Regions from separate parts of the Homo sapiens genome. Here region 1 is linked to region 2. Evidence: fine-mapped expression QTL. A gene starts in region 2. The other region holds a variant in brackets. All regions are shown on one strand. Distances are from middle to middle.

The links.
Region 1: its variant is fine-mapped to the expression of NAV2 in lung (TOPMed, PIP above 0.99).

Annotation. Positions count from the first base shown.
Region 1 is chr11:20,063,489-20,066,390 of GRCh38, reverse strand. All of the region lies in intron 20 of NAV2 (neuron navigator 2), which reads right to left. Among named protein-coding and RNA genes, the nearest start is that of NAV2-AS2, 16 kb to the right of the region's middle. RefSeq lists an enhancer at 894-1,696. The variant A/C (reference allele first, on the strand shown) is at 1,173.
Region 2 is chr11:19,711,572-19,714,473 of GRCh38, reverse strand. It overlaps NAV2 (neuron navigator 2), which reads right to left and starts at 1,637. Exons shown (of 38, transcript NM_145117.5): 1 at 512-1,637. The coding sequence starts at 778. LEISA1 (lncRNA enhancing IL-6/STAT3 signaling activation 1) reads left to right here. Exons shown (of 1, transcript NR_015384.2): 1 at 1-2,902. RefSeq lists silencers at 1,569-1,762, 1,403-1,932.

The sequences.
Region 1 (2,902 bases), 350 kb before region 2:
GAAATGCTTTCAGGAGAAGGTTGGAAGATGTCTTCAGAGCTCAATCTTCCCTCCCAGATAATATTCATTTGTCTTTGTCTGTCCATCTATCCTCACTACCACCACCTATCAAATACTTACTGATTTCCTACTGTGTGCCAGGCACTATTTTTAAGAACCTAAGATAGAGCCGTGAACATGACCAAGTCCCTGACCTTGTGTTGCCTGCATTCTGGTAATAACAGCTAGCATTTATTGAATGCTTACCATGTGCCAGAGACTGTTCCAAGCACTTTACATTCATTATTCATCTAATCCTTTTAACAACTCTTTGAGGAGGTACTAATACTATTGCTTTCTGTTTTGTGTATGAGGAAACTGAGGCACAGGAAGGTTCAGTCATTTGTCCAGGGTCACAGCTGGTAAGTGGCAGAGTTGGGACTGGATCTAAAGTAGTCTGGCTCCAGAGCCTAGGCATATTCTCCTGCACTTTTACTATAGTTACATTCTCACGGGGGCTTTCCAGAAATAAGCCCCAAGTTCAATCCAAAGGGTACAAGTTAATGGTGAGAATGTAACCACTATCTAACATTTAGAAGGCTGGCGGAGGCCTGTTAGCAGGCTTAGCCATCCACATAGGACAAGGCTACTTTGAAACACTTCTATCGACAGGCCCTAACAGCCCTTCCCCATGCCTCTGCCACTGTCTGTCACTGTGCCCACCTGTCTCTGGGGTTGGGCCCCAATTATCAACAGCAGCCTAGAGAAAGCATGTGCTTTGTATCTTGCCCCCCTTGCCGCTGTTCTGCACATCTGGTAACACTATGTGAAGCTGCTAGCCTCCATCCATCCAGCAGCTCTCCTGGGAACTCCAGTGTTCCCTACCAAACAAGAAAGCAAGTCTAATGCCAGAAGTGGCCTTTGAGATTTTCTCTACTCCAAGAGGTAGCCATAACTTTTCCATGGCAATCATTTAGCACTGTGTAATCTTTTCTTTCACTGATAATTAAAATTGCAAATTTCATGCAGAATGAGCATTCTTGAATATTCATTATAGACATTTCAAGGAAAGAATCTACTGTCATCCAATAAGAGCCTTTAAAACTCTCAGCAGGCTCCTTGGTCTGGGTCTGTGGCAACTTAACATTTCAAAGATCTCTTTTCAGACAACAAACAAATACTTTATTCACCTT[A/C]ACATTTACAAAGGTGCCTGGAGCATGTGTTTCAGAATTTCATTATCACGAAGAATGTAATAACAGATAAAGGACCACACCTCAGTGCTAGGCGGTAGCAGAGTCTAGCCAGACTTGTAGTTTTTCTTGAAATTAGTAGACAGCACCAGCATAAAAACATTCCACTGATAGGCTATTTTTTTTTAAGTCTGCAAAAGCAACCTATATTCTCAGAGAAGGCATACTGAGGACAGTAAATGGGAGCCTTTGACTCCATGACTCATGGAATGTCAGAGATTGTAGGGGCCTCAGAAGATCACCTTGCTTGGTTTCCTGATGCCAAGGGCAAAACTGGGGAGACACTCTGAATAACCAGATGACTTGTCCAAAGTCATATGGTGAGAAGAACGCTATGATTACACCTCGGGTCTCTTGTTATCCAGATAAAAATGGAATTCAAAAGTATTATTATTAGGTCTTTACTAATTCATTGAATTTATATTAGCTCAGAAAAGACAATTTCAAATTTCATGAAAACAGTATCTTCACGTCCCCATACCCAGAACAACAGCTACTGAAGGAGAGTCTTTTACTGTAAGGACTTCTAGTGGTTGGCATGAAGGGGCTGCCCCCAGGAACTGCATGTGACAGTTTCCTAGATCTGAAGACACACAGGTTGAGAAGCTTAAGCTCTTTCCCTCCAAGTCTGCATAATGCTGGCCAGTCTCCCATTTTTTTACTCTTCTGGAAAACCCACTCCCCTCTGTGTTGGCAAGAACCCTTGGGAATGCCACAGGGAAAACACGGGGCTGGGCACTGAAACATCCACTACAGCTTCTCTGTGCCAGTCCTGTGAAGCTAGAGTCCCATGTCCCTCTGGTGCCTACAGCTTCCTCCGTCAGTAGCAGGCTCCTTTCTCTCCTAAATTATATCCTAGGGGTTAGTCCAGAGCCTGGTATATCCATGGTGCTAGTAAATACTGTTGAAGAAGTGCATTTAGGTTTGAAAGTACCAGCCTTGGTACCCATATCCCACAGTTTCATTCTAGAAGAAAGGACATAGTTTATCTACTGGCTGACAGCTGAAAGACCATCTCTATGCTTTCTTAGCAGATGATGGCTTAAAAAACCTCTCTCCAAGGTTACTCTATATAAAGCCTTTAAAAGGAAAGCTAGGACTTAGTGATGAAATTTCAAACAAGATGACTAGCTGAGGAAAGAGGAATTTTAGAGTTGGAGGGGTGAGGTGGGTAGAAGCAAGGGTTTCTAGGTCCTTCAAAACAGACCATATCAGCAATCACTGAAGTTTGTTTGCTCAATACAGGCCTAAGTTAGGCCCTGGTATCTTTAACTTGATTCTGGGGTGTCCTCTTATTTTCCAGGAGCTATACACAGTGTATTCTGCTATATAGAAACCAGGCATTATCAAAACCTAAATTATTAAAACATTTGTTTCCATGGGATTAAGGGCTAAAGAATTTCCAATTCACAATTAACAAAGAGACTTTTTTTTTCCCTGTAGAAATTCCCAAATTACTGTTTTTAAAGTAAATAGCATACAGCTATAGCCATGCGCGGTGGCTCACGCCTGTAATCCCAACACTTCGGGAGGCTGAGATGGGCGGATCACTTGAGGTCAGGAGTTCAAGAACAGCCTGGCCAACATGGTGAAATCCCGTCTCTACTAAAAATGTAAAAAAATTAGCCAGGCATGGTGGTGCCTGCCTGTAATCCCAGCTACTCAGGAGGCTG
Region 2 (2,902 bases):
CAAGGGAAGAGCAGGTTCACTGCCACCCGCGATCCCCTTTTCTTCCTGGATCTTACAGCCAGGCTAGGGGGCGTCGAACCCAATGGGGCCTTAGATCATTCCTTGTCCGGAACAGAATCTCTGCGGAACCGCCAGACAGACACACAGCTGCTGCTGCGGATACTGGCTTCTTGGGGCCAAGACCTCAACATGCAGGACCTCACATTTCCAGCGATGCACACGTTTTTTGAGAACATCCCGACCTTTCCTCCTCCCCAGGAAGATGCTGCAGACGTGCCCGCCATCCCAGGTCTCGAAGAGCTCTTAAGGCAAACCTCCGGCACCCGGGCCACACCCACCGGCCGGCCCACTCTCCTCGCGCATCCCCCAACCTGCCGGCCTAAGGGGAATGGTTCCCTTCCCTGGCCACATGGTAGACCCTTCTCCCATCCAGCCCTTTCTCCCACACCATCCCGAAAGAACTATTCATCCATCCTTCCAGAACAGTACCCCGGCAAACGGCATCTCTCACCTGGGTATCGAACCCGTTTTCCACCGAGCCGCTCTTCCGCAGCGGGAGCCCCTCCCCCGCTGGCTCCTGCAGCCCCTGCAGCACCTGCGATTTCAGGGGGATCTGGCTAGGATAGGTGGTCTTGCTCACCTCCACCTTGCTTCCCAACTTCAGGTAGCAGGGCTGGGGGCCCGCCCGGGCCGGGGGCACGTGCAGGATGGGCGCGGCGCTGTGCACGGGTTTGGGCAGTCCCGACTTCATTTTGGAGGCGACCAGGATGGCCGGCATCTTCTCCCGGGGCTTGGGCTTTCCCAGCACGTCCCTGGCAGCGGCGGCGGGGGCGACCGCTAAAGGCAGCGCGGGTAGCAGAGCAGGCGCCGGGCCTTAGCCCACGAGGCGCCCACCACCAGCGGCTAAAAAAAAAATCCCCAGGTCGGGGAACTCGAAGCAATCGGGCGAGCGCGCCTTTGGGGTGCCGGGATGGGAATGGGGGACTGGCCACGGCGCTCAGCGGGTCCCACCTGGACGGATGCTGCCGCCGGGTCTCACACCTCTCCTGGGTGGCCTTTCAAGAGCTCTGGGCGCTCAGGGGCTGCCGCCTCTTGCAAATTTCCTCCTGGGAAACAGAGGCTTGGACGCCCATATTAACTTGTCACTGCATCTCCGAAGTGAGGAGGCCCCTTTGGAAGAGACAGAGGCGGCGGCGACCCACGAGTCCCGTTCCGGAGGCTACGGGTCTGAGCCGGCGAGAGAAAGAGCGAGCAGCCAAGGAAGGAAAGGAGACAGCAGCGAAGGAAGGAGAGAAGAAGGGCGCAAGGGTCCCAAGACGTCTCCACCGAGAGGCAGCTGCCACCCTGCTCGCGAGCACCGCAGTGTCACCCGCGACGCAGCAGAGGTGCGGCAAGAGCCCCCGAAAGGTCTCTCTTGGGGTGACAGTCACCGCTGCCCAGAAGGCCCCCGGACTGAGAGCACCTTAGCGCCTGCGGGTCTGCACATGCTCCGTGAGCTAGATAGAGGCAAGGCTGTGGCCGTGGGGCGCGGGCGCCGGGACGCGCGGCTGGCGGGCCGGGCAGGGCTGCGCTCGGGAGCGGCCGCCGCGCTTCCCGGGAAGGCTGCGCTGGCTGCGGGGCTCAGCGCAGGGGAGGACAGGCTGCTGCCGGCGCTGCTGCGGCGCGCGCTGACAGCCGGGGCCGCCCCGGCGCGCCCATTGGTCCACGGTGCGCCAATCAGCGGCCGCGGGTCTCACTGCAAAGAGGGTGTGGCCTAAACTCTGGCCGCCGCCGAAACTCTGGGGCCGCGCTTGGCCGCGAGTACAAAGCGGGCTGGTGGCCGCTTTGCGGCACTGCCCCGGCCGCGCGCCTCCCGGGGGGCCCACACCCCTGCGTTCCTGAAACCCTTCTTTTGAAAAATGCCCTTTCGAACGCAACCGTCCGCCCCAGAGCCACGCGGGCACGGCTCGAGGGAAGTTTGTTTCCTTTTTCAAATTGCTCCGGTCACCTTAACGGTTTGAGTCTTCCGGAGTCACGCCCGCAGCCTCGCTGCCCCCATCTGGCTTGGGCAGGGCCGAAGCTCGTCTCCCGCTTTAAGAGCGCGCCAGCCATTTCTCTGCCTGCTCTTCCAGGCCGGCTGGGCGGGGGGCCTCCCAACGGCTTCCTCTCCAGTTTTCAAAGGCTGCACATTTCACTTAACTATTTGAAGTATTTATAGGCAAATACAATACGCAGGGAAGCTTCCCGCCCCGAGACAGCTCCTCCACGCAACCTACCACAGACTCTGTAATTAGAGTGGCCTGAAGAAGCCGGGAGAGGCTCCATGACCCCGGCAGGCTCTGGCCAAACCTTGCTGCGTTTCATGGAGCCCCTCCCTGTCCGCGCCTGGGACGCACTGGCCCCAACAGGTTCCTCGACTCGAATTCGCTGTTTGGGTTGCTCTGTGGTTTCCTCGCTGACTGAAAGTGGATGAGAATAAGAAGGAAACTGAGAGATGATCAGGCAGGCCAGCCTTCGCGATTTATGAATGAGGAGCCTCCCACCCTGTAGAACTGCTTGGATTAGAAGTGGGCAAGTTATTTAAGCTTACATGCATGCTTATAAAGCTTCTGTTTTCACATGTAGTAAGGTGGAGGCTTGACGACATTTACCTAATGAGCTGTTGTTTGGATTAAATGAGATGGTTGGTGCATGGCAGTCATTTAGCACAAGTACCTGGCAATGTAAGAGACCAATAAAAGCTGGGCTTTATTTTCCCTGTTGTTAAATTACTGCTGCTTTCCCCCAAAGTCATCTCTGTTTATAAACTATTTGTCTTTCTTCTTTGTTTCCAGGACACTTTGTGCCCACCCTATAGCCTGATCTTCAGTGCTGATAGCATTGATTTAGAATAACTCAGATGCTATTAACTCTGTCCCCCTGG